2 separate regions of the Homo sapiens genome follow, and region 2 is reported to be linked to region 1. The links are microRNA targets in miRTarBase. Many come from high-throughput screens and were not tested one by one. Region 1 holds a microRNA gene; the other region holds the end of a gene's coding sequence.

Region 1 (7,120 bases):
AGACGCCAGGCCTGGCATTGCAAGAGGGGCTGAAAGCAGTGGTGGGAGAGAGGGCAGACAGGGAAATCTGGGCACTGTGTGCAGCCCCCAGATATGAGAGGAAGCCCCTGAGTGGAGAGTCATGAGACTTTGGAAGGGGCAGAAGGCTTTACTGAGGGGAGGGGCATCCAGGGAGGAGGGGCCTGGAAGTCCCCAGGGGCCACTCTGCAGGGGCTTCCCTGGGCCTGGTCTCTGTTTTACATAGTCTGGCACTCCCAGGCGGGCTCACAACTTGGAGTCCTGGTTGGGGAGAGGGAGTCAGGAGAGCAGGAGGCAACCTCCCATACCCGCCATACACCAATAATCAGACACCCTCACTCCGGACCAAGCCTGGACACCTGTGGGGTGAGCACACTCATAGCTATAGGCCCACAGACTGAGAAGTACATGCAAATGGCCACATGCCAGACCCATATGCAAAACACAGACCCAGACAGGCCATGCACAGACCCACATTTCCACACCGGGGCCAGACCCGCATGCAGGAGTGTGCAGGCATGTGGATGCGTGCACACACACTCCCGCACATACATGCCTGCACACACACACACCTGCACACATACACATGCCTGCACACACACACACCCCTGCACACATGCATACATGCCCACACACACACACCTACATGCCTGTGCACACACACACCTGCACACACGCATACATGCCTGGACACACACGTACATGCCCGGACACACACATGCCTGCACACACACCTGCGCGCACACACACCTGCACACACACATACATGCCTGCACACGCACACATACATGCCTGCACACACACATTCACATACATGCCCACACACACATGCACACACATACCTACCTGCATACACACACCTACACACACATACATGCCTGCACACACACATTCACATACATGCCTACACACATGCATACACACATACATTCTTGCATGCACACATCTGCACACACATACATACCTGCACACACATATTCACATACATGCCTACACACACGTGCACACACATACATGCCTGCACATACACATGCACATGCATGCCTACACACATGGGTGCACACAAACGTGAGCACACACATGTGCTGAACAAGGCCCCAGGAAGCCTCCAGCACAGGCCAAGAGAACGGCTCCCTCTACACTCGTTTATTCACTCCACAAACCAACTGAGCACCTACCAATGTCAGGCACAACCCCTGCCCCTGGAACTCACACTCTAGTGAGAAAAATGTCAATCACGCCTATCGAAATAATGACTATTCCTCACACATTCACGAGATTTTGCTCATTTAACCCTCAAAGCAGCCCTCTGGAGTCGGGGGGTCTCTGCTGCACAGATGAGAAAATGGGGTTCTGAGAGGCGTGGCACCATGCCCTGCTCGAAGCTCCAGAGCCGGCGATTGGCAGCCCCACTCAGATGGGTCTGGGGAGGGCTCTCTACTTCCTCTCGGTGACTTCTGTCTCCCCTGCCCTCTGCAAAAGCGGAGGCTGTGGGGATGTGGCCCCTGGCGCTAGGAGCAGGCCTGCTGAGGGGCCTGGCTGCTCCCTCTAGCCCCACTGTGGCCCTGGACAAGCCTTTCTCTTCCCACCCCTGCTGCCCATTGCACAGAAGCAGACATGGAGTCTGAGAGGACAGTGGCCTCGTGAGGTGGCCGAGCTGGGCACTGCGTTAGAGACAGGGAGGGGGCAGCTTCTGCCACCCACATCCCCAGATCAGTCGGTCCATGAGTCCTCACTGAGCCTGGTCCTGGCTGGATGCTCTGCCAGGCACACAGGGACAGCCCAGCCCAGGGCCTCCATGTTGCTTCCCACGCTACCAGGCCCGGGAGCACCAAACTCCTCGAGTACCAGGAAGCGAGCCCGCACACACCTTAGCTGCAGGTCCTAGCACCCCCGCCTTTCCCAGCCTCATACTCTCTGGACAGACAAGAGACTCCCCCTCACCCCAGGACCTACAGCCTACGGAGGCCTGGAGCCACCCAGCCTGGGCCGCAGGGACCTCAGGGAGGGTGCAGACGGGGGACGGAGGGCACAGGCCAGGGCCCTAACACCAGGCAGAGCCGTCCACAGTGGGATCGCCCACCTCGTTGGCTGCCTGGAGCATGGCCACCCTGTCCTGCATGTGAACTCGGGAGTGGGGAGAGCAGAGAGAGGCGGGGGCCGTCATTCAGCCTCTTGGAACTATTCTTGTCAGTGCCTCGTTCCTGGAAGCCTCTTTGGGCTGGGCCCTGTGTACAGGCAGAGGTTGGTGTGGGAGGGGAAGGCTGGGGTGTGTGTCTCTCACTGGAAGCCCTTGGAAAACCCCTCCCCTCCTTCGGGGCAGCCCCTGCCCTCAATTTGCTTACAGTCTGTTCCAAGCTTCTCAATCCATCAGATCAACTAGAGGAACTTTATAAAATGCAGGTTCCTGGGCTCCTTCCCAGTCTGCTGAATCCTAATCTCAGGGCTGGAGCCCTGGAATCTGTATTTTTTCAAAGCCTCGAGACCTGGATGAGAAGGCAGCACTGAGATCCCCTGGCCCAGGTTCTGGCGACTGCTCATGATTATTTTTTGGACCCCGTCGGTGGGATGCTGTCTTATTTAATCCCATGTCCCTGCAAAGGATCCAGTAGATGCCAAATGAATGTTTGCTGGCAGTACTGGTGGGTTGGGCAGGGTATGGACTCACCTAGAGGTATGCCTGGACCTCCCCCGGCCTGCTGTGTGACCTTGGACAAATCACTGCCCTCTCTGGGCCTTGGCTTAGAGGGTCTCCAAAGGCAGATATTTAGTGAGCCACTGATGGTCACCAAGGGCTGCCCGAACATCCAGGAGGTGATCTTACTCCCAGCGTGGGAGGGAACCAGACTGGCCTCCAAGGCATCTCTGGGATTCCCTTAGTTTGCCTTCTGAAAAATGGGCCCGGGCCATGGAGGCATCCTGAACTGCACTGCTCTCGCATGGACAACAGAGAGGGCATTCTTCCACACCTAAGGGAAAGAATATTTACCAACCCCTGGGGCCGCCCCTGAACCCTGGCCTAGGCCTGAGGGCTGAGCTGAGGGGTTATGAGGACCCCTGGCCTCTCCCTTGCCCCTCCCCCTCCTACCCCACCCCCACCCCCTGCTGTGGGCGAGGAGCAGGTGCCTGGCTTCCACTTCTTAGAATCCCTGTGAGGCCCTGGGGTGGGGGTGAGCTCATTTACGGGAAGGGGGGGATGGGGGGCTCTCTTCTCACCCGGCCCTGCTGGAGGCGGGGGGGGACAGCAAGTGCGTAAGCAGCCCCAGCTCCCGGCCTGCCTCCGGAAATGCCGCCCAGGGCTCAGTCACGAACCTAGCCAGGCAGGGGGGCACAGCCAGAGCACTCAGGGGTGTCAGGTGACCTGCGAGGAAGCTTGGCTGGGGGCCTAGAGGCTGCACCGGGGTGCACAGTGAGGTCAACTTCCCCCTTCCTGGGCCTGCACCCTGACACAGGGGTGTGCACCCCACGGCCCAGCTGGATGTGTCTCCTGCTGTCTGCCTATCTGTCTGCTGTGCCCTGGCCCACCGTGGGCTCTGGGCCTCTGCTGGGCTCCCCTGGCACCCATGGGGCCTGAGTTCTCATCAACAACCTGCTTCAAGGGGTGCGTGTCAGGGTCCTGGGGTATGGGGGAGACCCCAGCCAGGTCCTGGTGCGGACAGCCCTGCTTCCCTACCCCCTCTCCCCTTCCCTCCCTCCTCCACTTCTCTCTGCAGCTATTTAAAGCAAGTGGTGGCGTGGGAAACTTCTTCAGATGTGTGGTTTCATCTTCTTCAGCACAGGGACGGGGCGTCTGCTCGCTCTGGTGACTCATCCAGAGTGAGAAAAGCCTTTTTGTTGTTTGATGCTCGCTGGAGGCTCTGTAGCCTGAGAACCTGGCCCGATGGGGCCTTCCCTGCTGAGACTCCTGGGAGGCCTTGGGAGTGCCCAGGGCAGCCCTTTTGTTCCATCCCCAGACCCAGGGAGCCCGGGACCAGTGGAGCCCCTGAAGCTGAAATACTCTGCTTAGAGTGAGCCTTCCTGACTGGTGGGTGGGGCAGGGGTGGCCATTCTCAACACCCAGCTCAGCCACCACCTCCTCCAAGAAGCCTCCCTGATTCCTCCAAAACCTCAGTCGATCTCCACCTTATTCAGTCCTCTAACCCTCAGTCTTCTTATCTATGAAATGGAGCAGTGGGTCCAAGCTTCACAGATCTGTGTGAAGATAAACTGCGGAACACACACAGATGCTCAGTAGGTGAGATTCGTGGTAAGATTTATTGAGCATTTATTGTGTGCTAAGTGCTTTACATGAATGGTCCCATTGAATCCCAACAGCTTTGCGAAGTGTTGTTGGGATTCAGCAGGACCATTCGTGTAAAGTAATATTCCCATTTTACAGATGAAGAAACTGAAGGATGGGGAGGGGGTCAAGTAATTTATACATTGTCTCATAGTTAGTAAGCAGCAAAGTGAGATTCAAACCTAGGCCATGTGATGCCAGAGCCCCAGCCTTTAGCCACTGTGCCAACCTGTCCCTGGCAAACGTAACTAATAAGGATTTGGACTCAAGGCTATAAAGGGCATGCCCCTTCTGTTCAGAGGCTTTGCACATGCTCTTCCCCTGCCTGAAGCACTGACCCTTCCCCAATTGCCTGACTATATCCTCCCCAAGGCTCAGAGATGGGCTGGAAGGTCACTTCCTCCAGGAACTTTCCAGGATTGTCTCTGTCAGGTACCCTGGTGACGCACAGCGAGTCTCTGTGTACTCACTACCACGGCAGCTAAATCACTGTTTCCGCCTGTGTCCTCACCCAGACTGTGAGTGTCCCCAGGGTAGAGATGGGTCTGGCCTCCCATTGCCCCATCCCCACGGCAAGCACAGTCTCTGGCACACAGTAGGTCCCCAAGGTTTGTGGACTGAATAAGTACCACCAAGGTGGCCAGAGGCTGGGAGAAGCCTGGAGCACCAATGGCCATGAAAATTTTCCAGAAGCTTCTCTGTCATTATACAGAAATCCCTTTGATGCCCCCTGGAGAACACAGGCCTTGAAACTGCTGCCTGATGAGGGTTTGGGGGAGACAGGCGGTCTCAGAGTAGCCTACTCTCCCAGGGCAGCTGTGCCACGGGCTATTGGAGATCCCGGGCTATTTGTGATGGCCTTGGAGCATTATGGGAGCAGGGAGGAAGGTCCCCTGTCCTGCTGCCACTCTCTGCTACCCTGAAGTCCCGTAAGAAAGGACCACTCAGCTCCATCCTTGGGAGTCGAAAGATCACCAGGGCCAGAGAGAGGTTCTGGGAAGAGGTGGGCACAGAGAGTCTTGGGGGTCCAGGGTCTTGGAGGAGCTGGGGTCCCTTGAGTGATGGACTTCAAAGTGAGGCTGGGCTGCCCCCATTGAAGGAACAGCAGCCGCCATCTAGAGATGTCCAGTGAGTGCCTCGAGCACTGCCATTGATGCAGACAGCTGTGGCCTCAGACCTGGATCCTGGCAGCAGAGGCCATCAGTGGACCACAGCGTGCTTCCCAGTGGCCATGCCAGGGTGGGTGGGGAGCAGCTTATCTGACCACAGACCAGCCATGCCAGCAAAGGCGCTGCCGTTTCTGCCCACATAAGGGCTACAGTGGCTGCAGCAGCCACGCCAACAGGGGCAATGCAGTGTTCAGGGGGTGCAGCCAGGCCAGCAAGGGGGGAAAGGATAGATGACCACGGAAGAAGCCACAGCAGCAGCCACGCCAGGTAGGAATCATGCAGAGGAGCAGGGGCACACCAAGCAGCAGTGCAGCTGGCCTTGGAAACAAATACTGCCTTCTGACATCAAATGCTCTGAGGACGGTTGAGGGGCTTGGGCTTCGGTGCCCACCACCTGCCATCACTGCTGCCTCTTCTGTGGGGTTCTCCTGGTTGCCCTAGAGGCCTAGCAAGAGGCAGCACGGGCCAGGGAGGCACGAGGGGGAAACTGAGGGCAGGAAGCCAAAGGATGGCAAGAGAGAGGCTGGGCCGCTGCACGGGGCCTGGGGGGAGTGGGGAGAAGGAGGGCCACCCTGGACACCGGTGTCCTCAGACTGCTTCTCATGCCCTCCTCCTCCCTCCAGGGCTTACCCTGCCTGTGAGCAGAGTCTGCTGCTATCCCGGTTCCACAGACAAGGACAGAGGGGCTCAAAGAAGTCTGGGAATGTGGAAGCCTGGGGATTTGGAAGTCGGCTGGAGCTCTAGCTGCCGGCCTCTGTCATTTGGGTGTGTTCTTTATTACTACAGAGCGATGCTGCAGAGAAAGAGGGCATGAGGACTGGAGATGGCTGGCCCTGGGCAGACCTTTCAGGGCCTCAGTTTCCTCACCTGTGAAACTGGACACTTGGCCTCCACCATCCCCCAAGGCTCTCCCAGCTCAGTGGTGCTACAATAGGAGGGATGATATGTGGCCAAAGGGAGGGGAGTGGGTGGCCAGGACAGGCTGCCCTTTGCTGAGGCCTTTGTGACTCTGTTACCCCAAATGGAAGCCAGAGAGGTAGAGTGACTTAGCCAAGGTCATACAGCAACTCACTGGGGGGTTGGGGAAGGGAACCCTGCTTGACTGGGCGGGGCAGAACCTGGAGGCTCAGGCATGTTGGGGAAGGATGGGAGACTGCAGCTGAGAGTCCTCACTCCCAGCCCGTCTTCTGAAACACAGACGCTGGGAGAGCCATCTCCACCAAGGCCAGAGCTGCCTGTCTCCAAACTGAAAGTCACAAATGCACTGAAAACTTGAGGCCCTGCTCTGCCCATTTCCAACTTTCTGCCCTGGCCCCAGAATCATAGGCATCCCCCCATTGTACAGAGGGGAAGGCTGAGGCCCAGCAAAGGCAGGGGACTTGTCCAAGGACTCCCAGGGAGGCCATGCTAAAGCAGGGGCTAGCATCCTGACTCTTGGTTCCCTGCCCAGTAGTCCCCACCATCATCGCCAAATAATAATAATAGTAATAGGCCAGGCACAGTGGCTCACACCTGGGATTCCAGCACTTTGGGAGGCTGAGGCGGGTGGGTGGCTTGAGCCCAGGAGGTCGAGGCTGCAGTGAGCTGTGATTGCACCACTGCACTCCAGCCTGGGCAACAGAGCTAAGACCCTGTCTCAAAATAATAATAATAA
Region 2 (7,120 bases), not on the chromosome of region 1:
ATGCAATCCTCCCACCTCAGCCTTCCAAGTAGCTGGGACTACAGGTGCACGCCACCACACCTAGCTAATTTTTTTATATTCTGTAGAGACAGGGTTTTGCCTTATTGCCTAGTCTGGTCTTGAATTCCTGGACCCAAATGATCCACCCACCTCAGGCTCTCAAAGTGCTGGGATTACACAGGTATGAGCCACTACGCCTGGCCAGGAAGATTTTTAAAGGCTAAGAATTGTATAGGTCCTAGAGAAAAGGATGTTACAGAAAAGAAAAAGTGATGGAGAAACAAAAAGGCAAAGAAAAACAAAACATTTGGGAATTTGTTGTGAATAAGAGAAGAAACCTTAACAGTCATTGCAGTCACATCTTAAACTTTATTCTAAAGTCTGTCTTTATTTTTCATATTAGCTAAACCTATTCGTCCCGGGCAACATCCAGCAGCTTCTCCAACTCACCCAAGTGCAATTCGTGGAGGAGGTGCATTTGTTCAGAACAGCCAGCCAGTGGCAGTGCGAGGTGGAGGAGGCAAACAAGTGTAATCGTTTATACATACCCACAGGTTTGTTATTTATATCTGGCTTTTCATATCTGTTTGTGGAAAATTGGTTGTTAAATAGGTTTTTTGGTTTTAAAAAATTCTCACATTAGTGTTATGATTTTTTTAACTTAAGCATTATAAAAGTAATTTAGTTTGATCTTTTTGTGTAGTTTAGATCATACTATATATTCAAATTTGTGGTCTTAATTGTTTTGAAATCTAGCATTGGACCATTTGTAATAGCTTTTGATACTGTGTCTAATGGATGTACCATGGTTTATAAACATTCCTTTCCTTTTGGCTAGACATGTAATTATATTAATTTTTTCCATAATTGAAATTTTCAAAAACCAAAATTTTCATATATGAAATTTGAAACATCTTTTTTTTTTTTTCTTTTTCTTTTTGAGATGGAATCTCACTCTTGTCGCCCAGCCTGGAGTGCAATGGCGTGATCTCAGCTCACTGCAACCTCTGGCTCCTGGGTTCAAGCGATACCCCTGCCTCAGCCTCCCAAACTGGGATTACAGGCGCCTGCCACCATGCCTGGCTAATTTTTGTGTTTTTAGTAGAGACGAGGGGTTTCACCATGTTGGTCAGGCTGGTCTCAAACTCCTGACTTCAGGCGATCTGCCCGCCTCGGCCTCCCAAAGTGCTGGAATTAGAGGCGTGAGCCACCGCGCCCGACCTGAAACATCTCCTTGTATTCCCTAACCTGTTAGAGATTATTTCCAGAAGGTTCCCAGAAATGCAATTACAAGGAAATATGAACATTTTTAAGGCTCTTGCTACATATTAACACATTGGTTTCTAGAAAGACTGCACCAAATTGCTTATGAGCCCAGCTTACTAACAGATTTCTGAGTTTTATTTATAATTATATAAGTAATATCTGTTCTTTGTAGGGCATAAAACAGTCACAAATTAGAAAAAATCTAGAGATACTACACAATATACTATCTCTCTCTCTCTCTCTCTCTTTCTGGAGCTTTCTGTATTAGTTTTTAAATTTAAAAGTTTAAACTGTTGATAACTATTGTAATAGACTCCACTTATTCTACTACATATGCTGCTTCGGAGCCTGCTTTTTTTTCCGGCCCCCTGCCCCCACAAACCCCACACCCCCCTGCCCCACTCCGAGACGGAGCCTCGTTCTTGTTGCCCAGGCTGACATGCAGTGGGGTGATCTTGGCTCACCGCAACCTCTGCTTCCCAGGTTGAAGCGATTCTCCTGCCTCAGCCTCCCAAGTAGCTGGGATTACAGGCGTGCACCACCACACCGGCTAATTTTGTATTTTGTAGCCTGCTTTTTAAACTTAGCAATATATTCGGAACACTTTCTTCTACAACGTGATTGGTTAGTGGTTGCCTAATAATTGGTCATATAGCAGCAACTCTGATTGTAACTAACTCTTCAGGAAGTCCCTGATGTGTGTATGTGCTTTGGAAATAAAAAATACTAGATAATTATGAAATGATCAGCTGTTTCTGACAAATACTAAAGCTAGTTTATTTTAATGTTGCTTGTTTATACTTCGACATTTTGCATAATACTGGCTCTAAGTTGAGTAGAGAATTAAGAAATATTCTGAAGGATTCACATTTCTAGCAATTTTAAACGTTTTGTTCACACAATGTAGGATTTAAAACAGTGGTAGAGTGAAAAGAACAGGGACTATGGAGTTCCATCCAAGTTGGAATCCTGACTACTTTTATGAACTTGAGCAGATAAACTTTTTAATAGTTTTTTTCTCATTCTGACTTGTTTTACAGTACTTCATAAAAATTATGGATTTATTGCTTAACTATTTAATGAATCTCTAAAATAACATTTTTCTACATAGCCACAATATTATCACACCCAGTAAGATTATATTTTTAATATTATTTAATACCATTCCATATTCAGATTTTTCCAATTTCTTTTTCACTATCCTGTACAGCTGGTTTGTCTAAACCAGAGTACAATTCAGGACTGCTGTTTGCGTTTAGTTTTATCCCTTAAATCTCTTCTGATCTTGAATGAGCACCCTCTTTAGTGATATTGACTTACTGAGTAGGCCCAGTTATCTTGAGGGTATAACACCTGTGTCTGATTGTTTTTATGTGTAGTCACCTTGTTCTCCCTCTATTTCTATGCAAAAGCATTGATTAGACTCAGCATAAACATTTTTGACAAAGTTATGTCATAGATAATATGTACTTAATATCAGTAGACATACAATAGCTGGTTTTCATGATAATTAGAGATAACTCCTGTGTTTTTCCCCTTTGGACTCATAGCAGTTTTATTAGTAAAATGGAAGTCATTCTTAAGAATTACATGAGTTGGCCGGGAGCAGTGGCTCACACCTGTAATCCCAGCACTTGGGAGGCTGAGGTGGGTGGGTCACCTCAGGTCAGGAGTTCGAGACCAGCCTGACCAACACGGAGAAACCCTGCCTCTACTAAAAATACAAAATCAGCAGGGCGTGGTGGCACATGCCTGTAATCCCAGCTACTCGGGAGGCTGGGGCAGGAGAATCGCTTGAACCCAGGAGGCGGAGTTTGCAGTGATCCGAGATCGTGGCATTGCACTCCAGCCTGGGCAACAAGAGCAAAACTCCGTCTCAAAAAAAAAAAAAAAAAAATTACATGAGTTAAGATGTTACCCAGCACACAGTATTCAGTAGATGCAAGCCTTTTCCTACCTTTCTGGAAGTGGGAGCTGGGCAAGGGGATTTTCAAAGCATAGATAGAAAGTTTATCCTTTTTGGATATTGTCCTCACATTAAAATTCATATGTCAACTTTAAACTTACCTCATTGTAGAGAGAGGACAGACCATACTTTTGTTAACTATTGCTGATAGCAGTAAAGTGACACCAGGTTAGCACATAAGGGAGGGAGCTAACCCAGCCAAACTAGGTTTTCAAGACTTGAAAGTTATGATGTAAAAATACAATTATTTACAGGTTTGTTTTGATGCTGGTCCAAAGATAGTGGTTCTTAGTTTTCAAACTCTTATAATCTATCTTAAACCATGATTGGGGAGTATATGATTCACTTAAGTGATAAATTGTTTAAATGTTAAATAATTTGCACTGGAGTGCAGTGGCAGGATCTCGGCTCACTGCAACCTCTGCTTCCCGGGTTCAAGCAGTTCTCCCTGCCTCACCCTCCCGAGTAGCTGGGATTACAGGCGCCCACTACCACGCCCGCCTAAGGTTTTTGTATTTTTACTAGAGACGGGGTTTTGCCATGTTGGCCAGGCTGGTATTGAACTCCTGACCGCAGGTGATCTGCCTCCCTCAGCCTCCCAAAGTGCTCAGATTACAGGTGTGAGCCACTGTGCCCGGCGAGAAATTTTTTTAATGTTAAGAAAAACATTTCAAGTCACTGTGTTTATTTTTGGAAAGGATGACATTTATAATACTGATACTTTTAGTTCCCAGTTTTACATGACTAGTCTTCTGCCTTGCATAGTACTTTAAATAGGTTGCTTTTCTAAATGCATAGGTAAGTAGGCAGTTTAATACTACTAGAATTATTTATTTCACTGTTACTTTTCCTACTGTATACACCTCTTGTTTATCCCTATTCCTCTCCCCCTTTTTTTTTTAAAGCTTCTATGTATATAACTAGTAGTTGCTGGTTAGTGTTCCTTGGTTTAAGAAGGTCACTGACCACTGTCTGCTGGTTAAAAGATTAGCCGTCTTTTTCTTTTTTAAACAAATACAATTCATAAATCAGCTTACCCATAGCTTTATTTGGGAGAATAAAAACAAAGGGAGGGCTGACCTCCCTTTAAACATTACTGCTTCTAAACAGTTCTACTTAGGTAGTATATAAAAGGAAACCAAATCATTTAATATTGCCATCCTTCTAATTTTGGGGAAAGTAGCCACAGATGTTGGCTAAAATGTTTATAATAAACTGTTGGCATATTTTATTTTGTTTTATTCTTCATGATTATCTCAAACACCAATTTTGTAAAACTAAACATATTTACTCTATGCTTTCTCCCATTTTTAGGTGTTAAAAAGTAATCGAAGTACGAAGAGGACATGGTATCAAGCAGTCATTCAATGACTATAACCTCTACTCCCTTGGGATTGTAGAATTATAACTTTTAAAAAAAATGTATAAATTATACCTGGCCTGTACAGCTGTTTCCTACCTACTCTTCTTGTAAACTCTGCTGCTTCCCAACACAACTAGAGTGCAATTTTGGCATCTTAGGAGGGAAAAAGGACAGTTTACAACTGTGGCCCTATTTATTACACAGTTTGTCTATCGTGTCTTAAATTTAGTCTTTACTGTGCCAAGCTAACTGTACCTTATAGGACTGTACTTTTTGTATTTTTTGTGTATGTTTATTTTTTAATCTCAGTTTAAATTACCTAGCTGCTACTGCTTCTTGTTTTTCTTTTCCTATTAAAACGTCTTCCTTTTTTTTTCTTAAGAGAAAATGGAACATTTAGGTTAAATGTCTTTAAATTTTACCACTTAACAACACTACATGCCCATAAAATATATCCAGTCAGTACTGTATTTTAAAATCCCTTGAAATGATGATATCAGGGTTAAAATTACTTGTATTGTTTCTGAAGTTTGCTCCTGAAAACTACTGTTTGAGCACTGAAACGTTACAAATGCCTAATAGGCATTTGAGACTGAGCAAGGCTACTTGTTATCTCATGAAATGCCTGTTGCCGAGTTATTTTGAATAGAAATATTTTAAAGTATCAAAAGCAGATCTTAGTTTAAGGGAGTTTGGAAAAGGAATTATATTTCTCTTTTTCCTGATTCTGTACTCAACAAGTCTTGATGGAATTAAAATACTCTGCTTTATTCTGGTGAGCCTGCTAGCTAATATAAGTATTGGACAGGTAATAATTTGTCATCTTTAATATTAGTAAAATGAATTAAGATATTATAGGATTAAACATAATTTTATACGGTTAGTACTTTATTGGCCGACCTAAATTTATAGCGTGTGGAAATTGAGAAAAATGAAGAAACAGGACAGATATATGATGAATTAAAAATATATATAGGTCAATTTTGGTCTGAAATCCCTGAGGTGTTTTTAACCTGCTACACTAATTTGTACACTAATTTATTTCTTTAGTCTAGAAATAGTAAATTGTTTGCAAGTCACTAATAATCATTAGATAAATTATTTTCTTGGCCATAGCCGATAATTTTGTAATCAGTACTAAGTGTATACGTATTTTTGCCACTTTTTCCTCAGATGATTAAAGTAAGTCAACAGCTTATTTTAGGAAACTGTAAAAGTAATAGGGAAAGAGATTTCACTATTTGCTTCATCAGTGGTAGGGGGGCGGTGACTGCAACTGTGTTAGCAGAAATTCACAGAGAATGGGGATTTAAGGTTAGCAGAGAAACTTGGAAAGTTCTGTGTTAGGATCTTGCTGGCAGAATTAACTTTTTGCAAAAGTTTTATACACAGATATTTGTATTAAATTTGGAGCCATAGTCAGAAGACTCAGATCATAATTGGCTTATTTTTCTATTTCCGTAACTATTGTAATTTCCACTTTTGTAATAATTTTGATTTAAAATATAAATTTATTTATTTATTTTTTTAATAGTCAAAAATCTTTGCTGTTGTAGTCTGCAACCTCTAAAATGATTGTGTTGCTTTTAGGATTGATCAGAAGAAACACTCCAAAAATTGAGATGAAATGTTGGTGCAGCCAGTTATAAGTAATATAGTTAACAAGCAAAAAAAGTGCTGCCACCTTTTATGATGATTTTCTAAATGGAGAAACATTTGGCTGCATCCACATAGACCTTTATGTTTTGTTTTCAGTTGAAAACTTGCCTCCTTTGGCAACATTCGTAAATGAAGCAGAATTTTTTTTTCTCTTTTTTCCAAATATGTTAGTTTTGTTCTTGTAAGATGTATCATGGGTATTGGTGCTGTGTAATGAACAACGAATTTTAATTAGCATGTGGTTCAGAATATACAATGTTAGGTTTTTAAAAAGTATCTTGATGGTTCTTTTCTATTTATAATTTCAGACTTTCATAAAGTGTACCAAGAATTTCATAAATTTGTTTTCAGTGAACTGCTTTTTGCTATGGTAGGTCATTAAACACAGCACTTACTCTTAAAAATGAAAATTTCTGATCATCTAGGATATTGACACATTTCAATTTGCAGTGTCTTTTTGACTGGATATATTAACGTTCCTCTGAATGGCATTGATAGATGGTTCAGAAGAGAAACTCAATGAAATAAAGAGAATATTTATTCATGGCGATTAATTAAATTATTTGCCTAACTTAAGAAAACTACTGTGCGTAACTCTCAGTTTGTGCTTAACTCCATTTGACATGAGGTGACAGAAGAGAGTCTGAGTCTACCTGTGGAATATGTTGGTTTATTTTCAGTGCTTGAAGATACATTCACAAATACTTGGTTTGGGAAGACACCGTTTAATTTTAAGTTAACTTGCATGTTGTAAATGCGTTTTATGTTTAAATAAAGAGGAAAATTTTTTGAAATGTAATGACTTTCTTAAAACTTAAGTGTTAGGTTGATTTTACATGGCTGAGTTCAGGCCTTCTGTCTTGACA

The links. Region 1 holds the annotated microRNA hsa-miR-4425 (UGUUGGGAUUCAGCAGGACCAU, at 4,346-4,367, shown strand). A microRNA usually pairs through its seed, bases 2 to 8, with sites in the 3' UTR of a target mRNA and lowers its output. Matches are read on the target gene's strand: a 7mer-m8 pairs with bases 2 to 8, a 7mer-A1 pairs with bases 2 to 7 and ends in A, and an 8mer does both.
Region 2: miRTarBase lists KIF5B as a target of hsa-miR-4425. Seed matches in the 3' UTR shown: 8mer at 4,718-4,725.

The regions. Positions count from the first base shown.
Region 1 is chr1:25,019,207-25,026,326 of GRCh38, forward strand. MIR4425 (microRNA 4425) reads left to right here and starts at 4,297; the gene lies at 4,297-4,380. RefSeq lists enhancers at 17-86, 127-286, 244-1,140, 1,399-1,927, 1,928-2,454 and 4 more.
Region 2 is chr10:32,008,943-32,016,062 of GRCh38, reverse strand. KIF5B (kinesin family member 5B) reads left to right here. Exons shown (of 26, transcript NM_004521.3): 25 at 404-554; 26 at 4,547-7,048. The coding sequence ends at 534. All of the region lies in intron 2 of LOC107984219 (a long non-coding RNA gene), which reads right to left. Among named protein-coding and RNA genes, the nearest start is that of KIF5B, 44 kb to the left of the region's middle.